4 separate regions of the Homo sapiens genome follow, and all the other regions are linked to region 2. The links come from fine-mapping of genetic effects on gene expression. A gene starts in region 2. Each other region holds a variant in brackets. All regions are shown on one strand. Distances are from middle to middle. Region 1 has its middle 64 kb from the start of LINC02795. Region 2 holds the start of ODF2L (outer dense fiber of sperm tails 2 like). Region 3 overlaps CLCA2 (chloride channel accessory 2). Region 4 overlaps LOC105378825 (a long non-coding RNA gene).

What was found. PIP is the estimated chance that this variant, and not a neighbour inherited with it, causes the effect. A credible set is the group of variants that fine-mapping cannot tell apart.
Region 1: its variant is the best candidate, but not a certain one, in a credible set for the expression of ODF2L in whole blood (TOPMed, PIP 0.62).
Region 3: its variant is the best candidate, but not a certain one, in a credible set for the expression of ODF2L in sigmoid colon (GTEx, PIP 0.63).
Region 4: its variant is the best candidate, but not a certain one, in a credible set for the expression of ODF2L in whole blood (TOPMed, PIP 0.75).

The regions. Positions count from the first base shown.
Region 1 is chr1:86,252,896-86,258,050 of GRCh38, reverse strand. No RefSeq gene overlaps it. Among named protein-coding and RNA genes, the nearest start is that of LINC02795, 64 kb to the left of the region's middle. The variant C/T (reference allele first, on the strand shown) is at 2,777.
Region 2 is chr1:86,394,041-86,399,195 of GRCh38, reverse strand. ODF2L (outer dense fiber of sperm tails 2 like) reads left to right here and starts at 2,873. Exons shown (of 17, transcript NM_001366781.1): 1 at 2,873-3,163. RefSeq lists an enhancer at 2,899-2,948.
Region 3 is chr1:86,427,971-86,433,125 of GRCh38, reverse strand. It overlaps CLCA2 (chloride channel accessory 2), which reads right to left. Exons shown (of 14, transcript NM_006536.7): 3 at 4,558-4,708; 4 at 2,156-2,264; 5 at 598-757. Among named protein-coding and RNA genes, the nearest start is that of CLCA2, 6.4 kb to the right of the region's middle. The variant T/C (reference allele first, on the strand shown) is at 2,856.
Region 4 is chr1:86,323,998-86,329,152 of GRCh38, reverse strand. The region is part of intron 2 of LOC105378825 (a long non-coding RNA gene); the gene reads left to right. Among named protein-coding and RNA genes, the nearest start is that of LINC02795, 7.0 kb to the right of the region's middle. The variant A/G (reference allele first, on the strand shown) is at 2,456.

The DNA of each region.
Region 1 (5,155 bases), 140 kb after region 2:
AATCTTAACAACCCTCGAGGTAGGCACTATTATTATATCTTCATTATGGATGGAAACTGGTGTTCAGAGAAGTTAAATTTTGCCCAAGGTAACCTAGAAGTTACGTGGAAGCCGGGATTCTAACCCAGGGCAATCTGACTTAAAGCCTGTACCATGAACCATTAACAGCTGTGTTACGCTTCCTCCATGGGGATTAATTAAGAAAACGTGTGTGTTTTAAAAACAGCAAGTGCTGTAGAAGTGCTAGTGATGGGCTCTGGAGTCAGAAAAGCAGACCCATCCCACTTCTTAATGGCTCTGAATGTTAGATTTTTCAATAAGATACTTGTATCCCAGCCTCTTACTCACAATATTGGAGATCCACGTTGGAGACCAAAGACTAGCCCATCTTTGGTCATCATGGTGACAGCCTTTTCTTTTAATGCTCATCTGTAACAGGTATTTCACTGTCCTTGAGCCTGATTTGGATGGAGTCTTTTCATCATAAGCATTTTTTTTTGCTTGCTAACCTCAAATTACACTTTTACTCTGGGATTATCAGCCTGTAAATAATGCTATCAGGTAGGAGAAAGGTAAGAAAATGTAAATAGTTTGATTCAGTTCATTCCCACTCTTGGAAAAACAGATGTGTGCCTGCCCTCCAGTTAATGGAAAGGTAGCATCGTATCTATAAACAAAGACTCTCTTTGACATGAAAAGGAAAACTTAAATGGAGAGAAGTATCATTTATCTATCTAGAACATTTTCTCCTAGCCAAAAACAGATTAGGCAGTGGATCTAACCAGCACACCTCTCTAATCTGACAGATTCCTGCCACATGGGGATGCTTTAGTGCAAATGTTCCATAGTCCCTGAATTTATTCATATGGTGCATCTCCCTATGTCATGCTTATTCAATGAATGCTCAGTGAAGTCTACACTCTGCACCATGGGCTGTGCTGTTCAGATGATAAAGAGTCTCTGTTACAGAAGGGGCCGTAATATAGTGGGGAAATATAGTATAAACAAAAATCATAATAGAATACGAAATATGCTATGTGAAAAATTTTGAGTAAAGTTCTAAGATGATGCAGGAAGGGGAACCTGTAAATTGCCTCTAACTCACAGAAAATAGGCTAGAGTGAAAGTAGCTTGTCTTTGTGCTAGTCTCACAGCAGACTTGAGAGAAGCAGGTGGTAGACAATTTTGATTCTTCATTTCTGATTCATTTCTCATTCTCAGCAGCAAATTAGGGCATGTTGAAGACTAGAGAAATAGATATTTAAGTACAATTCAATATTTTTACCTATCTTAATTTGGTGAATGATAACTTCACCAAATTAAGTCACAGAACCCATCCCAGGTACTGTGACATGATGGGAAATATCTGCATTCCATCTTACAGGCGGTACCAAATCCAGCACAGGGCAAATTCAACAGCTTTAGTACCACATGGCACTGCATATCCAAATAAAGAGATCTAACTAATGAGAGACTGTATTTTATAAAGAATTATTTGTGAGACACATTTGGATGTCATGAATATAGCTTGTACTTGTGAGTTGCTTCTGTCCCTTAGTAGCTATGTGAGAGTCTGACAAGTTGCTTTGCTGAGCCTCAGTTCTCCTGCATATAACAAGGATAATAAAAGCCATTTAAATGCATGTGTATATATGGCTTTTAATAAACAGCATTGAAAAATGCTATATATCTATATATAGCATTTTAATATATAGCATATATACATAACATTTTTTCAAGCTTCAAAATGTTATAAAACAATGATTAATATTGAAAGCTCTGTTTAGGTAGTTATCACTATGTGCACTCCCAAGAGCCTCTTGTATGCAAAATCCCACTAAGGAGATGGATAGAGGACAGGTTAGTCCCTTGAAGATATTTTGGGAAAATAGTACAATACAGATACTCTTGAAATGTGAGCTCCTCTATGTCCATATCACATTTTCAGCAGTTTCCTGAAGAGCAGTTCCTGACAATGCTCCCACAGTCATGACCTGTGTTATTAGAATAATAATCTTTGAAAAAAGATGTTTATGAACATAACCAAAAATAATCATAATTTCTCCATGTAGTAACATATGGCTAAAGTAAATAATAATAATAATAATAATAATAATAATTTATAATTTGGACTTGTGACTTTTTTCCTAAACTTGAAAACTTTAAAAAATTATCCTCGCAAAGAATTTTTTTTTTCTTTTTGGATATAAGAACTGTGGCCCAAAATTCAATCCAAACTAAATTTCAAATGTGGAGTTATAACCCCTACCTCTGCATGGAAACCATGGAGCCCCTCAGCCAGAGTGGCAATTGGCAGTTCTACCTTGGTCTCCAAGGACACACACAGTGAGATACCAACCAAGAAAAAGAACAGGGAAAGAATACGAGGGGAAATGCTAAAACCATCTGTACAGAGTTGGGTTTTGTATGCTGCTGCTACAACAGGATTCTTCTTATCTTAACTAGAGTCCCGTCTCCTTCCCATGACTACATTTGAAAGAATAGTAAACACCTCTTGCAATACTGATTTCAGAGAGTCAGTGTGGTTTAATATAGGGGTCATTAGAGTGGGGGTGAAGAGACAGGGTTCTATCCTAGCTTCGTCATCTCGTGGCAGGCATCTTGCCCCCTCTGTGACTCAGAAGCATCATCTGTAAATGTGGATATTAACAGTTGTAACCACTTTGCAGGTCATGGTGGGAAAAACACACTGAGATGTATATAGCGTTACTTTAGGCTTTCACACTAGGACAGACGCACACTTAGCCCCTCTAGA[C/T]ACTCAGACTCTGGGGTGCTGATCAAGAAAGAACCAAACTGTCCTGGAGCCCACATCCTCCATTCCTCTTTCACTAGTCTAGAGTAGGGGAGAATTATCTCACAATGCAGGCTCTAACAGAATTCTTCCCCTGTAGTCTGTGCCCACCACCCCTGCCTCCAGATGGTCCAGACAACATTGAAAACAGTATCTACCTAGGACAGTGCCAGAAGGACCAATCACTGCCTCATTCCTGCCCATCCTTCTCCAGAAGCGGTGGTGCTAGGGCCATAGGCGTGGACCTGCAGGATGAAGGCCCTTTGCCACTGCCAACCTGTGGTCTGGGTCATGGACCAGCTCCTGTACCTCTGGTTCACAGTCCCAGCGGTCACTTTTATTTTCCAACAACAGCTAAGATTGTTGTTTTTGGATTCCCTGTTCTCTGAAAGAGGAAAATTAATGTAAACCCTTAGACAAATATGTTCAAAAGATGATTATAATGGGTTTTAAGTAAAAACAGAATGGAAACCAAGGAATTATCTAATAATTAAAGCAAAAATTAATAAGCACCTCTTCTATCTGAATAGAGATATACATCTCTGGTTACAGTTGTGCTACAACAACACCATTGTGGTTTATTTTCCCATTAAGTGGCCATGAATATGGTCTTTTATGGGGCCTGGTTCGCTACATGGTGGTCTTACCTGAAGATAATCTTTAGCAACAAATACGCAGTGAAAAGGCCTAGATTTCTTATTATATCAACTTCTGGTCATGATTTTTTTCTTCTTACCTTTCTTCTAGAATGTGTTTATGCATAACGTGTGTATAGTCTTCAAAAGAGCCTAACATGTAACTAGTGCAGGCATAGGTACAAATAGAAACTGCCCCAGTATTTATTTGTGGATTATTTTCTACATTTTTTCCATTTCTAAATCCTCCCAAAAGACCAATTTTCTCTGGTAACAGAGAATATATTTGTCTTTAAGTTTGTAAAAGAAGCTACATAAAATTCTCCAGACACATGTTTAAAATGTGTGATCAAACTGGCATCTTTACTTGGAAATGGCCAGTGGTGGAGAATTTTTAAGTTTGTCTGATGATACCTCAAAGAGAATTTTTTTCAGTGGAACATTAGGTCCTCAATTACGAATTGTTCCCACATTTCAGACCTACCCAGTAGACCTTTCAACTTTAAGCTGTTTTTGTTACTAATGAAAAAATTCATTATTCATTTATGAAGTCTGGTTCTTCTTAGTGTTCTGACTTTAGAGAAGGATTTAATTTAGAAAGTTAACCTGTGGAATAAACTATGTCTCATGTGAACCCATTTAGAGACAGATGTGTTTCTGTAATATGTACTGTACAATCAATTTGCATTTATCCAAAAAGTTGCCATATTAAGTGGACTCAATAGGCCTACTGTTAATGCAAAATTTAAACTATGGAAAACTGGCTTTTCCAAACAATAAGAAAGAAGTTTCCCTCATAGCCTGGAGTCTTCTGCTTTGTTAATGCAAGATGTCAAGCCTGCTGCAGTTACCTGATGCAAGTGAAGATTAGAACACATCTGAAACACAGCTGAAAATTTTACAAAACTGAAGCACAGAAATAGATGGAAAAGAAAATGACGCAGGCAGGAAGGAGGAAAATAAACTCACATGCCCACAAAAATCTTAAAGGAAGGAACTGGAGGGAGTTAGTCTATTTCATATATGAGACAAAGTCAGAATTAATTTGCTTAGAAGTTGACAAACAAGACACCAAGTCATAGTCATTAGAGCCTGGATCTTGCCACCAGACAAGTAGGGGTTTAAATTCCTGCTCTTCAGATTACTAGCTGAGTGACCCTGGATTTTTGCTGGCTGGATTTTTGGCTGTTCCTTCATCTGTAAAATGGGAAAATAATTCCTACCTCAGAGAGTTATTGTGATAAGTAAATAAAAACAATTTTCATAAAGATCTAAACAGTACCTGCCACTTTATTTAGTGTTCAATAAATTGGAAGAAGTCCAGAAAATTTCAGCTTTGTCATAGCTAAGAAATATTAAATGATTTTTCTTTTACTATTTAAAAAAATAATGTTAGGGATATATAATTTATATATCCTAAAATTCACCCACTGTAAGTGTATAATTCAATGATTTTTTTTGTAAATTTATAGAGATGTACAACCATCACTGCAATCCAGATTTAAATTCAAAACATATTCATTACCACAAAAATTTCCTCGTGTCTGTTTGAAATTGATCTCTGCCTAGGTAACCACTAATCTGCTTCCTGTCTCTCTATATTTGCCTTTGCTGAATATTTTACATAAGTGCAATCATACAATATGTCATCATTTGCATCTGGATTCTTTCACTTAGCGTAACATTTTTTAGATTCATCCTTATAGCA
Region 2 (5,155 bases):
ACTTGCCCTTCCTCTTTGGCTGTGGCAAAAAAAATGTCAAGAACCACTGGTCTAGATCTAAAGTTAGATCCCAACATGTTCCAGGGTATAATAAAAGATCTGACCTGGGAGAAGGGTTTCATACCAAAAAAGTGCAAGATTTTGCTTATTTATATTGGCAGAAGACTATAGAAAATGATAATGAATTCCAAGTGTGGCAGACCAGGGATGAAGGAATATTTTTGATGAGACCAAGATATTAATATGAATACATTTACCAGAGACCATAATTCACTGTTCTTGCTTTGAACATCTAGGAGTGGCTGTCAAGGTTTGCTCAGTTGGTTGATTGAAACTAAATAAAGTTGAGATGTTAGAAATCTCTTGATTTTAGAGGATTGAATTAAAAGACTTAGGGAAAGGGGTAACGAAGAGAGGTTGATTAATGAGTGCAGACATACAGTTAGATAGAAGAAATAAGACCCAGTGTTTGACAGATAAGTAGGGTGACTATAGTTAACTATAATCTATTGTATATTTCAAAATAACTAGAAGAGAACAATTTGAATGTTCATAGCATAAAGATAAATATTTAAGGTGATGGATATCCTGACTATCTTGATTTGATCTTTACACATTACACATTCATATAAATGTATCCAATTATCACATGTACCCTGAAAATATGTACATCTAGTATGTATCAATTTTTAAAGAAGACTTAGGGAATAGTACTGTATGAATGGATTTATCATATGTTACCCAGTCATCTCCTTTCAAAGGTGTTCTGAGAGGGCCAAAGGACCTTCTTTTTACTAAAGCATTGAGAAAATATAGGGAATGCCAGAATCCTTTAAAAGCTCTGTAGCTGCTATTCTATAAGCCTGGGGATAAAGATGCTGCCATTGCATGAAATCCCTAATTCCCTAATGGAAATAGTAAGATCCCAAAGTGATAGAGGCCAAGTGATACCACTGAGCCATCAGAGATGAGATATCTGTTGATACCATGATACCAGCAGGGTGTATCATATTGTTTGACTAAGGGGGATCTTTAGGAGTTGATAATTAATCACTGCCCCTATAATTGAAATGGATAGTCTGCTAAGATTCTACTTAATTTGTACAGCAAAAAATTTACCAGAACTAATGAAGAGACCTGAATGTCATAACCTTAAAGGAGATTTACAGCATCTTGACATTGGCTTTTTGACTCATGGCTATTATAATAGGAAGACAAAGTGGAAGCCTTTGGAACTGCCCTTATCTACTAAAAGATTAAACCAAAGGCAATACCATAGTCCTAGGGGAATTCCAGTGATTAGTGGCACTATTAAAGAGTGCAAAGATGTAAAGGTGGTGATTCTCCATCACACTTTCATTTAACCTTCTGTTTGTCCTCTGCAAACAGGTTATCTAAAATGTTGCTTTTTAATTTTGAAGTATTATTTGTATTCAAGTATCTTTATTCTATTTCATTGCCTGCTATTTTTACATTCTAGTCCCCATTTGTTGCCATGAAGATAGAAATCACAATTTCTACCCAACACTGTAGTGTTGCATCCTGCACACAAACGTACTTTAGTGAGCTCATATGTTTATGTTTATGTATCATCTATGGCTTTTCTTGGTAAGACAATGGCAGAGTTAAATAGTATCACAGAGACCATATGACCTGCAAAACCTATTAATAAAATATTATCTGGCTGTATGAGCACATTTTCATACTGCTATAAAGAATTGCCTGAGACTGGGTAATTTATAAAGGAAAGGGGTTTAATTGACTCACAGTTCAGCGTCGCTGGGGAGGCCTCAGGAAACTTACAATCATGACGGAAGGTGAAGGGGAAGCAGGACACCTTCTTCGTTAAGGAGAAGTGCCCAGTGGAGGGGAAAGAGCCCCTTACAAAACCATCAGATAGCTTGAGAACTCACTAGCATGGGGGTAAACGGCCCCCATGATTCCATTACCTTCATCTGGTCTCTCTCTTGACACGTGGGGATTATGGAACTGCCCCCATGATTCAATTACCTTCACCTGGTTTCTCTCTTGACACGTGGGGATTATGGGGATTACAATTCAAGATGGGATGTGGTCGGGGACTCAGAGCCTAACCATATCACTGGCCCTTTACTAAAAAATTTACTAATTCTGTCTCCCGCTTTAAATTATGAAAGGGACAATTACAGTACTGGTGGAAAAACATTGCTGGAGTGCTTTAGTGAAACCAATTATTTAGGTAGCAGCATGCCACGGTTATGGCTTAGTTGACAGTTACTCTACTTGTGAACTTCATAGGTTGGTGTACGATTCTTAACATGAATATTAAGTAGAGGCATTGAATGAAGATATTTTTCCAATTAAAATCTTGCTTTGCTTCTTCAGGACTTTATAAACCAGACCAGCTGGCTGTGGCACAGATACGAAAGACTTTGAGACCCTGAAGGCACCTTGCAGAACATCCTCAGGCTTCCTCATTTAACAGGAAAAAACCTGAGGCCCAGGGAGGCATCTCAGCTAAAAATACTACTATACATTTAAAAGGAGGTTTCTTCCGGTCGCAGTTGCCTTCACGTTTTCAAATCTTCTCTTTAAAAAGCAAAAGCAGGGCACAACCAGGCCAAGCGCCAGAAAACTCGGAATTGGCTTTATTTCCTTTTTTTCTAGTTGGGCTCGGTTATGATTTTCGGTAACGTACACAAATGCTGTCCTTGTCCATAAACAAACGCTTAAAAAAAAATGTTTACCCGAGAAACAAGGATAGACACGAAGCTGCCCTCCCTGCCCCGTTCCTCACCCTCTCCAATAGCTATAGGCGCTGCCCGCCGTCCCTAACCCGGACCAATCGGCAGCCTGCTGCGGGCCTGACGGGAGGGGTGGGGCCGCCGTTGCCAGAGAAGCCACTAGCCGGTTACTAGCTGCGCTTTTGTTCCACTTGAGCGGGCACTCTTCTGCGGCAAGCAGGTCTAGGAATTCGCCTGGTTCCCACCTCGCGTCCCTTGCCTTCCTTCCTAGTCTACCCACTGTAGTGCCCCCTGCGTCCCGCTCCCTCCTAGCCGACTCAGAGCACAAGAAGGATTGCCACGGTTTCCATTGCAGCAGCCGTGGCGCCTCTGACCCTTTTTTTATATCGCGGCGACGGCGGGCTGTCGTCACGACGACGTGCGGACGCAGCGGCGGGGGCGTAAGTACGCCTTTTGGGTTGGGGGCGACTTTGTGGGGAGCCTAGCTGCTGCTGGGCGTTTACCGCGGGAGCCCTTAGCGGTCTGGAGGTGAGGGCAGTGGTGGGTCCCGGAAGTAAAAGGCCCTCGCGCCCACCCAGCCCCCTCCGCGCAAACCCTCCACCTCCCTCAGGCTGACTACCTGGCCTGGGAAAAGGGCGGCGAGACTCACTCTTAGGAAGGGTGTGGTCCCCGGGACATCAGGGCAAATGTTAGCGTGAGGTGGGCTTGTGCAGAACGAAGTCCTGACCGGGCCGTTCCTGGATATGGTTGCATTTCTTTCAGAAATAGTGACCTCTTAATCATTGGGCTGGTTTTTAATCGCCCATCATGTGATATATCAGATTGTAGGAAGCCCTGGGGGCTTCGTAAGTGAGGTATATTACAGGAATCCTCAGGAAATAATTCCTTCTCCAGGATTCCTCTAGGTTCCAGCCCCTATAGGCGACCCCTGTAGTGCGGGATTGACCTAGGGTCGTGGAGAGTGCTAAAGGCCGACTTGTGTTCAGTCCCAGCTCTGCCACTGAACCCGCTGTGTGGCCTTGTCTAGGTCACTGAACCTTCCTGGATTCCTTACTGATAACTGTAACAGTAATCATCACTTTGGGGTGGTTGTAATACGAGATTAAGTAAACGCAGGGCCATTAAGGTGGCACCGAATGTAGGTGGTTAGTGAGTGGTGGTGCTTGTTGTTTACTGAGAATAACCATACTGGGGCTGCTGTTGGGGATAAAATCTATTTCGAAGACAGTTTCCTCATCACGCAACGCATAGTACGGTTTCAAGTGTTTTTGAATGAATGAGGTTCTTGGAGTTTTAAGTGCAACTGAGTTAAGGTTAAAGAAACAAACCGGGCCGGGCGCGGTGGCTCACGCCTGTAATCCCAGCACTTTGGGAGGCCGAGGCGGGCGGATCACGAGGTTAGGAGATCGAGACCATCCTGGCCAACACGGTGAAACCCCGTCTCTACTAAAACAAATACAAAAAGTTATCCGGGCGTGGTGGCGGGCGCCCGTAGTCCCAGCTACTCGGGAGGCTGAGGCAGGAGAATGGCGTGAACCCAGGAGGCGGAGCTTGCCGTGAGCCGAGATCGCGCCACTGCACTCCAGCCTGGGCGACAGCGCGAGACTCTGTCTCAAAAAAAAAAAAAAAAAAGGAAAAAGAAACAAACTGCAGAAAACCTGTCTGCTTTTGAAATTAGTTTGATATTCTGCTTATAGTAAGAATGTCATGATCATGTTTATGATTTGCTTTTTGCTTCTCTTTTTCATCTTCTTATTTCACAATGGATGTGTATTTATAGTGTAGTTTTTCTATCCCAAAAGTTCCTTGTGACAAACTTTAGAACAATGGAATTTAGTGATCTGGTCGCGGTCTGCTCTCTCTCTTTAGAATTGTAGTCTGTGCTTTTAGCTAGCTCATTCATCACTCATTTCCTTGTCCAGAACAGTTTTCATCTTTTGAATCTAAATTGAACTTATGAGTATTAAAACCTGACTGAATAAAGGCAAGTTTGTGTGTTACTTTTTGCTTTGTAGATTTTTATATTTATGTTTTAGTATCTCATGGCTTTTTTTTTTTTTTGAGATGGAGTCTCGCTCTGCCGCAGTGGAGTGCAGTGGCGCGATCTCGGCTCACTGCAACGTCCGCCTCCCGGGTTCAAGTGATTCTCCTGCCTCAGCCTCTCGAGTAGCTGGGACTACAGGTGCCCACCACCACGCCTAGCTAATTTTTGTATTTTTAGTAGAGATGCGGTTTCACCATCTCATGGCTTTTAATTCAAAACTGAGTTCCACCAATTCCTTACTTGTAATCTTGGACAAGCTATTTAACCCTTCTAAGATTTAATTTACTTATTTATAGCTTTTTAATAACAACCTTGTGAAGCTTTTGTGAGATGATGTTTATAAGGTCAGTCAGTGCTCTGCTCAGTAAATGGCAACAGCTGTCGTGTT
Region 3 (5,155 bases), 34 kb before region 2:
GGCCAGAGGATGCAAGTATGAGATGCCCATGACAGAGTACTCTTTTTAATTAATAGTTTAAAAAATAATATTCTGGATTTATATGCTAGTCTCTTGTCAGTTAGTTAGCATGGAATATTGACAAGGTTGGGTTTCTGCAAAGCAGAGTTGGTTGACTTCTCCTGGTGATACCTTACTGTTAAGTTCTAGACTATTCAAAACAAAGGAAAGAGATTGAGGAAAGGCATTTCAAATACAGAGTGGTCTGCTACTTCAAACGAGAGAATTATAACCATTTGTTATATCACTCTCATTAACCCAATGTAATTTCTTATGAAAGAATACAAGAACACCACCATAAGAACAGTTTATTTTGTGGTCCCCAGAGTCCCTTTGTTAAACCTCCCAGGAAAGCAAATAGTCACTTTCCTGAAGGTATCATTTGGGTAATTATCTTGGGGGTTCCAATTTTTAAATCTGTAGATAAAAACTAGATGAACTCTAGGGTCCCCCAAGTTCTAAAGTATAGTGCATCTTAATTATCTTATAATTTAAATACTTGAAACATGGGAAGAGAAGGAATCCTGCAAGAGTGTGTCATTCCAAGGGCATACTTACAGAAGATAAACTTTGCATGAACATTATTGATGCAGTTGCATTTTGGGTGCTATTGTAGATAAAGGTGCATCCTTCTTTAAAAAGCTTACTAATAATACAGTTTTCTTGGGGGCAAGGACCTTTTTCACACACAAAAATGCCTGTGATGTCAGATGAACACCTAAAAATGGAAAGAGAAACTGGGAATTAGGTCTATTTTAGAAACACTTATGTTTCTTGTTGACTAGCTTATATAATTATTACAAGGATTGTAGCCTGCTAGATATATACAAAACTTTAAAAACTGCTCTACTGGCGGGGTGCTGTGGCTCACACCTGTAATCCCATTACTTTGGGAGGCTGAGGCTGGTGGATCACCTGAGGTCAAGAGTTTAAGACCAGCCTAGCCAACATGGTGAAACCCTGTCTCTACTAAAAATACAAAAATTAGCCAGGCGTGGTGTTGGGCACCTGTAATCCTAGCTACTGAGGAGGCTGACGCAGGAGAATTGCTTGAACCCAGGTGGCAGAAGTTTCAGTGAGCCGAAATCGTGCCATTGCACTCCAGCCTGGGCGACAGGAGCGAAACTCCGTCTCAAAAAACAAACAAAAAAACAAACAAACAACAAAAACAAACAAAAAACTGCTTCATTAAGAAAGTTCACTGATTTAGAAATGCACTCTATTTTATTTTAAAGCATTTTATCTTGATGGAGGGGTTCTGTATTAACAAGGGCTTTAACAACTAAATAGGGTCAAAGCAAAAGATACTAGGAAATCCAGATGGACTTTGGGAAGCCCAAGGAAGGACATGAGTGGCAAGATCCTGGGTCAGTGCTCCTTTGAGTTCATTTCCACTTGGTATCAGGGGAAAAAAAGATAATGAACATGTAATGATGATATTTAACAGGATTCTTTCCTAAACAAGCGATCTCAAATGTTGTTGATAGGAATGTAAAACAGTGGCAATTGTAGGAGAAGAATCAGTCAATAGCTACCAAAATCACCCTTTGACTCAGTAATTGTTGGAAGAATTTGATATGTTAATCTGTCTGCACGTATGAGAAATGACACATGTGTAATGCTATGAACTGCGTGTTACTGATAATACAAAAGATGGGAAACAACCTGTGTGTCCACCAAGAGGAGACTGGTTGAATAAATTATGGTATAGTCACATAATGGAACACTATGCAATTATAAAACACAGAGCGAGGAAAAACATATGTTTCTATTCATTTGAATTTGCCTGAAGAAATATTGAAAAAATAAACAAGAAACTAATCAAAGTGGTTACTTAGAGGGCATGAGGGGAAACAGTGAAGATAGTGCTGCAAGCAAGACAGGTACAAGCATGACTTTTTATATTGTTTTGATATTTGAACCACATAAATACCAATTTAAAGAAAAATGTCATATAACTTAAGAACTGAAAAGTGAAAGGATCTCTTTCTTATCAGCTAAGTTTTAGCTGCAATTAAATTAATTGCTTAAATTAGGCAATTATTTAATTGCTTAAGTTATAAGCAATTTTAGAGTCAAATAAATAATGAATTATAACATGAAAAAAAGTACTAACCTTGTCACTTTAATTTGATTTTGCCCATTTATGTAGAAAGGTTTGTCATTGTTATACTCATCGAACACACCCCAACGGAGGTGGGCCCATTCATGGACAAACACTCGGCCTGCGGAAGAAAGAACTTTTGCTTTTGAGCTTCTAAAATCTCAGCAATGTGCCTTGCTAACTAGTGAAGACGTAACATTTCTTGACCACACATACTCTTTGGAATGACCAAAGAGTTTAAGTTACTTCCCTCTCTCCCCTTTTCCTCTCCCCTATCCTATTCCCATCTCCTCCTACTCCACCACCTACCACCATAAAAAAGGCAGCATGAAAATATGTTTGGTCTTGTAAATGCAGTAATTTACTTGTTGCACATCTATTTGAAGCTAGTGAGTAGTCCCACATCCTCTCATCTCCCCAGTGAAGCTGCCCAACAGGTTTCTATTCAGCTTTGTAGAGGCCTCTAAGTTCAGGGTTTGGAGAAAGGGAAAGAAGCATATCCAGATAGGCAAATAAAGCTTTCCTAATCTTCTGTCTGAGCTATCCAAGCAGACCTGCTTTTTTTCTTGCAGGTAATTCTTCTATCTAGAGCAATAGTTGAAACCTAGGAGCTAGGGAAGGAGGAAGGAGCAAAAAAGGAGACTGCAGAATGTTCTCCCCAGCCTGGATGGTCCCTTCTCTTTTATTTTATCCCTTATTCTCCATGTTTATG[T/C]GTATTTTACAGCTCCTAGGTCAGGGAAACCCCCATCCTCTGCATGAGATCCTTTAGAACTTCCTCTCTCTCAAAATCTTACATTCCCTTCAAAGTTCAGACCACAGCTTTCCCATATAAGCTTTCCAGATGAACTCCCCTCCCAAAGCACACATTTCTTTTTTCTGAATTATTTTAAGTTCCGGGAACTCAGGAAGTGTGTGCTGAGTTGACTCAGGCTGTGGCATATTGTGTAATTTTTGGACCTCGAGGCAAAGGAAGGGAGGGTAGCAGTCCAAGCTGTGAGTGTTGAGGGAAAGATTGTGCCTACTCATGAAATTTAGAAGTGCTGATGAAATCATGCTTGAGCAGAGATTATCAGCATCTCAAGGTTACCAGGAAAGAAAAAAAACTACGTTTTTCTAAAGATTTATAAAGTGTTTTGTAAAGTGTATTTTATGGAGTGTTTCACTCCACTTCCTGCTAACTATACAGAGGATAACAAAATCCTTGTTAACAAAACCCTAGTTTAGATTTAACTAGGGATAAAAAAGAAAATTAAGACATCACTTGAAAGGCACTACTGTTACATTAAATCAAAAACAAAAAATAAAGATTGGGATAGATAGTCCTTGACTGGCGAACTGTGCTTACTATTTTCTCCCTCAGATCTCACTCACTAAATACCAGTCTCTAGGCCTATGACCCTGACTTCTCTCCCAAACTCCAGCCATCAATATCTAACCACAGGCTGAACCACTTTCCCTGGCATAGTCTATTGCTCTTCACAATGAATTTGCCTAGATCCAGACTTGTGGGATTTCTTCTTGAAGCTGGTTTTTTCCATGTCTGACAAAAACCTGGTGTGTGCCTTGTTCCTTAATGCTGTCTCCACGTGCCTCTTGCCTTTCCTTCTGCAGCAGTTCAGACCTCTTTTTGTTTTTTATCTCTGGAGTATTTCTCATCGCTTAGAGTTGCTAGAATTAAGTACGATAACATTTGAAAAGGAAACCACAGAGCGGCTAGCGCATAGGAAATCCTCAGTGTCCTTATTACTATCCTTCCCATCTCACTGTCTCCACCCATTTTTAAGTCTTGTGGCCTCATACCTCGACTTCTCCCAGTTATTCTCCTGATATCCAGTTTCTCCTTCATTGATCAGAGGAAGCCAGATTAATCTTAAAACACTGCTTTGATGGAGTCACTCCTGTGCTTAGAAACCTTGAGTGGTGACTTGAAAATGTGGCCATTTTAGTGCATCACCTGGCCCTCATGTATGTTTCAACGTTTTCTCCCACTGCCCACAGTCTCCCTGCACCATCATCAGGGTCTCTGTCTCTCCTATATGCCTTTAATTTTTCTGCTGCCACAGTTTTCTTCATAGTCTTCCCACTATTTTCTCCCTTCTTTCCATTTATCAAAATGATGTTCAATCTTGAAGACCTTTTCCTTTGTGAGGACATTTCTGACCACCCTTGACTCTAAATGACGTTTCCTTGATTGAATTCTTATAGCACTCCTCTCTGGGCCACTAATCTGGTGCTAAACTCTTTCGAGTTCACTTTAGCCCCTCATCTTTGCATGGGCATATGACCTATCTCCCCCTTTGAGTGGTAAGTCCTTGACAAGTTTCAGGTTTTGTGAGTGAGTCCCTTTCAGCACCAAGCACAGAATATTATAAGTAGTATTGTCCAATGGCTATTGTTTTATTGGTCCCACTTACCTCGTGATCCGTAGCCAGCTGTTAAGTTATCATTCAGTAGGAAATTAGGTGTGAAATGAATGTATTTTCCCTCTTTTCCACACCCTCTGTATTGTAGGGTGTATGGATCATCTCCATGTGCCCCATACCAGTCAGTCACTATGACATTTGCCTAAATTAAAAGAAATGCCTTGTAATACTTTCTCAGCTCTGTTGTTGGTGACATAAATGTATACATTCATTAAAGCACTTTGAACTGTACACTTAAGATGTGTGCATTTTATTGTATGTAATTATAACCCAATTTAAAAACAAAATTGAAGAAAAACACCTTGTGGATGGAGTTTAAAATGCACCCACAGCTACATATCAATAAAATCACTTGGGATTTCCAAAAAGGTCTATGTTATGAAAGCTTAGCAAATTTTTATGGAACCTAATTACTTCCATTTGATCTTTCCACATTCCAGATTAAAATATTCTCAAAAGTCAATCCTGTAAAAGTCTGATATAACAAAACACTATAAAATGCAATTAAAATATTTGAAGAAATTCTAAAAGCATTTATACATCGTTCAGAACCATTCAGAAGGCTGTAAAATGTTACAGCCTTTTGTGA
Region 4 (5,155 bases), 70 kb after region 2:
TAGTTTAACACTGTCCCTCTAGGTGCTAGTTCTGTGATAGCAGGCGAGTTCTCGTGAGATCTCATCATTGAAAAGTGTGTGGCACCTCCCCCAACCTTGGTCCTGCTCCTGTAACATGTAAGACACCTGCTCCTGCTTTGCCTTCTGCCAGGAGTAAAAGCTCCCCTAGGCCTCCTACAAGGCAGATGCTGCCATGCTTCTTGCACAACCTGTGGAACCATAAGCCAATTAAACCTCTTTTCTTCACCCAGTCTCAGGTATTTCTTTATAGCAATGTGAGAACAGACTAATACAGTATATATAAAGTTTGGTACTGTCCTCAGTTTTGGGCATCCACTGGGGGTCTTAAAATGTATCCCTTGAGGATAAGGGTAAACTATTGTGTAGTAAAAATATGGTCTTCATAATTTCTGCTGTTGGGAATTTATTAAGTATCTTTCTCTACTCCATTATTAATTTTCTATATCTTCTTTATTGTGTCTATTTTACCTATTATAGATTAATACTGTAAATTCTCCTACAGAGAGTGTGTTTCTGCCCATTTTTCCTTATATATCTAGTATTTTTATTCTATATACTTTTGCAACCTCTAAATATTTTTTTCTTCATATTTGTATGATAAATTGTGCCAATTTCATTGTTTCTATTGTTCTTTGTTATTTTGTTTCAGTACTTTCTCCTGGAGATAAAGAACTTGATACTTTCCCATCTTTTCTTCCCAGTCTGAGATTAAAAATTCTCTATTATTTTTATAAAAATAAATATTAATATATACTTTCAAATAGTTAAAAGGATATTGAATGTTGCCAACACAAACAAATGATCAATGTTTGAGATGATCAATATGCTAATTACCCTGATCTGATCACTATATATTATATGTATGGAAATATCACTATATAACCTACGAATGTGCTAAATTATTATTAAAAATGATAATAATAAAAATTAAGGTTGTAACCATGTATAAAATAATCATTTAAATTTATAATTATATTGTTAGCTGATGTCATGTTCTTTTTGGTATCAACACTCAATTGTTATTTTTGTTTTACCTTTAATTTTTCTAGGATATGCTTTAAACATTTTATTCAGTAATTATCTGTATTTGGAATATATTTAGGGTTCTCATATTCATGATTTCCTTCTTGCCTTCATTTACATGTGGAAACCTGAGCAGAAACTTTAGTGGGAAGAAAATCTTGGAGTTACAACTGTTTCCTTCAAAGCTCTGTAGATGTTACTTCCTGTCTTCTGACACCCACGGAAGAAATGTTTGAGGCCTTCAAATTCTTTTTCTTTTGTGGGTGGCGTTAAGCGTTTATGCTGTGTTTCCCTGGATCCTTTTTTATCCCAGAGGTCCCTTTAAACATTATCGTCACTGGATCAATGTCATTAAATCATCTGACTTAAGATCCAGATATTTTACTGTCTGTCTATTCTCTCCTTGTCAAAGTAGAATTTTTGAAAGAGAAAATGTGCCTGACACCATCTTTTCTAGAATTCTGTCCAAACAGGGACATATGTGGTCAAATTTTCATTTATGTAGATAACTCTGGTGACCATGAAATATCACTATGTTGTTGGGAAGGATGAGAATGGGTGAAGAGGGAGAAGGAACACTGGAGGCTGGGAGACCCAATAGGTGACTGTGTCATAGTCTAGTAAACAACAAGGAGGGTAGCAATAGTAGGAATAGCGAAAAGGGGATAAAGTCATGAAATTTGATAACATGAAATCCACATGACTTGGTGACTCATTGGCTTTTGTTGGGAGGGATGCACAGATTGCTGATCAGGTACCAGTTAGTGCCATCAACTAAAATACACGAGGAAAAAGTGGGGTCGAGGGAGACCAATTTTGTTTCAGATTCCTTTTATTTTTTTTAATTAGGAAAAAGAAAATTATTATTTTGCTTATATTTTTGTCTGATTTTAACTTATGGGTTTGTCTAATTATTTTCCAGTGTATTTGTGTGTGTTTATTGGGGAACGAATGTGATGTTTGATTTAACAAGTCACAGAATTTTTCTGTGTTCTTTGTTACTGCATTGTTGCTCATGTGTTAATTTTATTTCCAGTGTCTATATTATTTACATAATGATGTAAATATTTATCATATTTTAAAATCATATTTAGGACAGACTCAGAACACTGTCAACCTTTGCAGTTCTAAACAAGTGCCTACACTAGTTTCTCATAATCATAATAGCTTTGAAATTAGATGAGGCTCTAAGTTAATCATACAAAAAAATTCCAAACAAACCCTAAATCATTTAAGGGATTGTAGAAAGTATTAGCCAAATTTGAAATTTATGTTATTTATTATAAATTTCTTTCATTGACAAATTAAAACATCCCCTGTAAATCGTAAGAAGGGATGCACATTTATACCAGGAACTTGACTGTTAAAAAAGCACGTTAATGTTACTTCAGAATTATTGTGAAAGAGCTAA[A/G]GAAGGCAGTATTTCCTTCCAAATACTCAAGAGTCATTGGTATTTAATGAAGAGGGATTTGTGGTTTCCTGATTTATTAGGATAGATTTTTTTCTAAAAAATCTACAGCAAAAAATAATATGTAATCTAAAAGTTTTCCAATTTGGGCTTAATAAAATCTTAGGATTGGATCTTACTGTTTTGAAACTTATTTATTCATATCACATATAAGGCTACTTTTCAAGTTTCAATAAAGGCAATTATTTTTCATGCTTTATATTTTTGTTTCTTTAGGGATTTTGATCTTATAAAGTTTTCAACTTCAGTTTATCATTAATAATTTAATTACAAAAGTAGTAATTTTTAAATTAAAAATAAATTCAAAGAATACCAAAGAATATGATGTGAAAATATTACTTCAGCTGCTTCTCATCCCAGATCCCATTGTCCAAATTAAGCACTATTCATTGTTGCTTAATCATATTGCTTAACCTTTAAAGAAGGCCTAATTCTTTAACTTTAAATAATTTAGCCCGGGGGAGAAACAGTATCTAGTTCTCTTACAAGTAACAAGAACTAAGTATCAATACCTTTAAATTTTGATAACTCACTAACCTAGAGATACTGAATAGTATTGAAAATGTTTGAACCTTTTAATTTTAGCAGCACTAAGATTGTCTTATCGTTGCTAAAATGGCCAAGTAAACTTTTTTTTCATTGTTTTGAATAAGAACATAAGCTACACTTTTAAAAACATGCTTTTCTATATTTCTAATAGATATAGCAAGTTTCACTATTCATGTCAAATCAATATATAATTTCAATATGTAATTTTAGTGATCCTAGTTCTATTTAAAAATGAAAAATATAGTTTATCAATGGTATTTTAAATGTTATTCATCTTAATATGATCCTTTGAAGGCTACACATTCCAATATCCAAGCTTTAAAGTAGTTTGTATACACCCAACATGCAAACCATGACTTTAATCATTTCCTCACCAGAACTTCAATTATGCCAAGCACTTTTTAATTATCCTGTGGCCCACAAGTCTATTCTTAGTAAAAGTCTGATTTTATGGAGGCAGTCTTCTCCTCTGTGGCAAAAATCAACTCACCACTTAGCAACTCCACCCATGAAAAAGCCCTGTGAATTAAAAGCTACTAAATTAAGTGTGTATTTTTAACAGCTTCAATTTTGAAGTCTGTTTTGGCATAAAAGTTGAAGACTTTTTTTTGAAGTACAAAAATGCTATGTTGGCATTTCCTGGTATTTTCAGAATGCAATTTGTTTTTTGGGTTGTCCCTTTTACAAAGTTAGTTTCTTATAACATCAATTTTTTTTTTCTAAGGGGAATATATGTAATCAACTTGCCCTATCACTTTGTCTTTTTTATCTTATTTTAAAAAAGCAAATTCTGAACCAAGAAGAACAATGAAATAAAAAGAATTTCTGTGTGAGGCAGGGCTGTAGGATAGGAGGAGAAGGTTTGGGGGCACAGGGGGAAGCAGAGGAATCACAGAGCTGAAGTGTAAATGGGCTCAGTGTTTCCTGCACAGATCAAAACCTGGAACAGAAATCTAGAAATTAAGAAAAAGTAAGGCACGTAGAATTATTATGCTTTTTACTATTTTCATTTCATAGTAATGGAAAATCTGTTTTTCCCAATTAATACAAACACAATACAAAGTCATTTTAGGAAATGCTTGTATAAGGCTAATGCTTATAAGATATATTAAACACTAGTATATAATACATTCATTCAAGAAATAATAAGGACCTGCTATGTACAGGGCCCTGTACTTCTCTTGTGTTACAGTATAGCTCCAATAAATGATTGTATTATGATCCACCCTCCCAAAAATGTGGTGTTCAAAAGCTGAACTTAGGAAACGTGACACATACTGTGCCCTCAGTCAACACCTGTTTTCCTTGTTTTTCCCTGCTGTCATCTATTATAGAGGTTGGAATATCTAAAAGTTCCCCAGTTTGCCTTACAAATAAAAGTTGCTTGACAAGGTTCTGGCCAATGAGATGTAAAGAGAAAGTCACTGATACCACACAGTCTCTTTCTAGTATGCTCTGGAAGTGCTGCTTCATTCACCCCAGGTGGTGGAGCTGAGAAGCCAGAAGACTCTTTGAAGGTGCTCTTGACCTACTGTACTAACTGTGGACCTCCTACTCGGGACTTCTTATGGCATAAAATATACACTCCTCTTCCTTGTTTAAATGACCATTTGCTGGGTTTCTGTTACTCTTGGCTGCATGAGTTACTGACTCAGGAAAAAAATTTGGCAATAAGCATGACAGTGGTCTTCATATTCCAAATTGTGATGAACAGTGTCTAAGACGGCCCACAATGATCCCCACCTCCTTCTCCGCCTTGTGTAGTTCCTCTTCCACTCTCTACCAGGGTCAGTTTCTGTGACCAATAGGAAGTGGCAGAAGTGAGGGTTGTTGCTTCTGAAGTTATAAAAGGTTACATATGCTGGGGTGCTCTCTCTCTGATTCTTTGCTCTGGGGAAGTCAGCTACCATGTTATGTGAGCAGCTCTATGGAAAGGTCCACATCGTACAAAACTGGAGCCTCCTGCCAACAGGAGCTTGGAAGCTGACTCTGTGGTCCCTTCAGATGATGGCCATCTCACAAGAGACCCTGAGACAAAGCCACCTAGTGGTGCCCCTTTCAGATTCCTAACCCTCAATAGTAAATGTTTGTTGT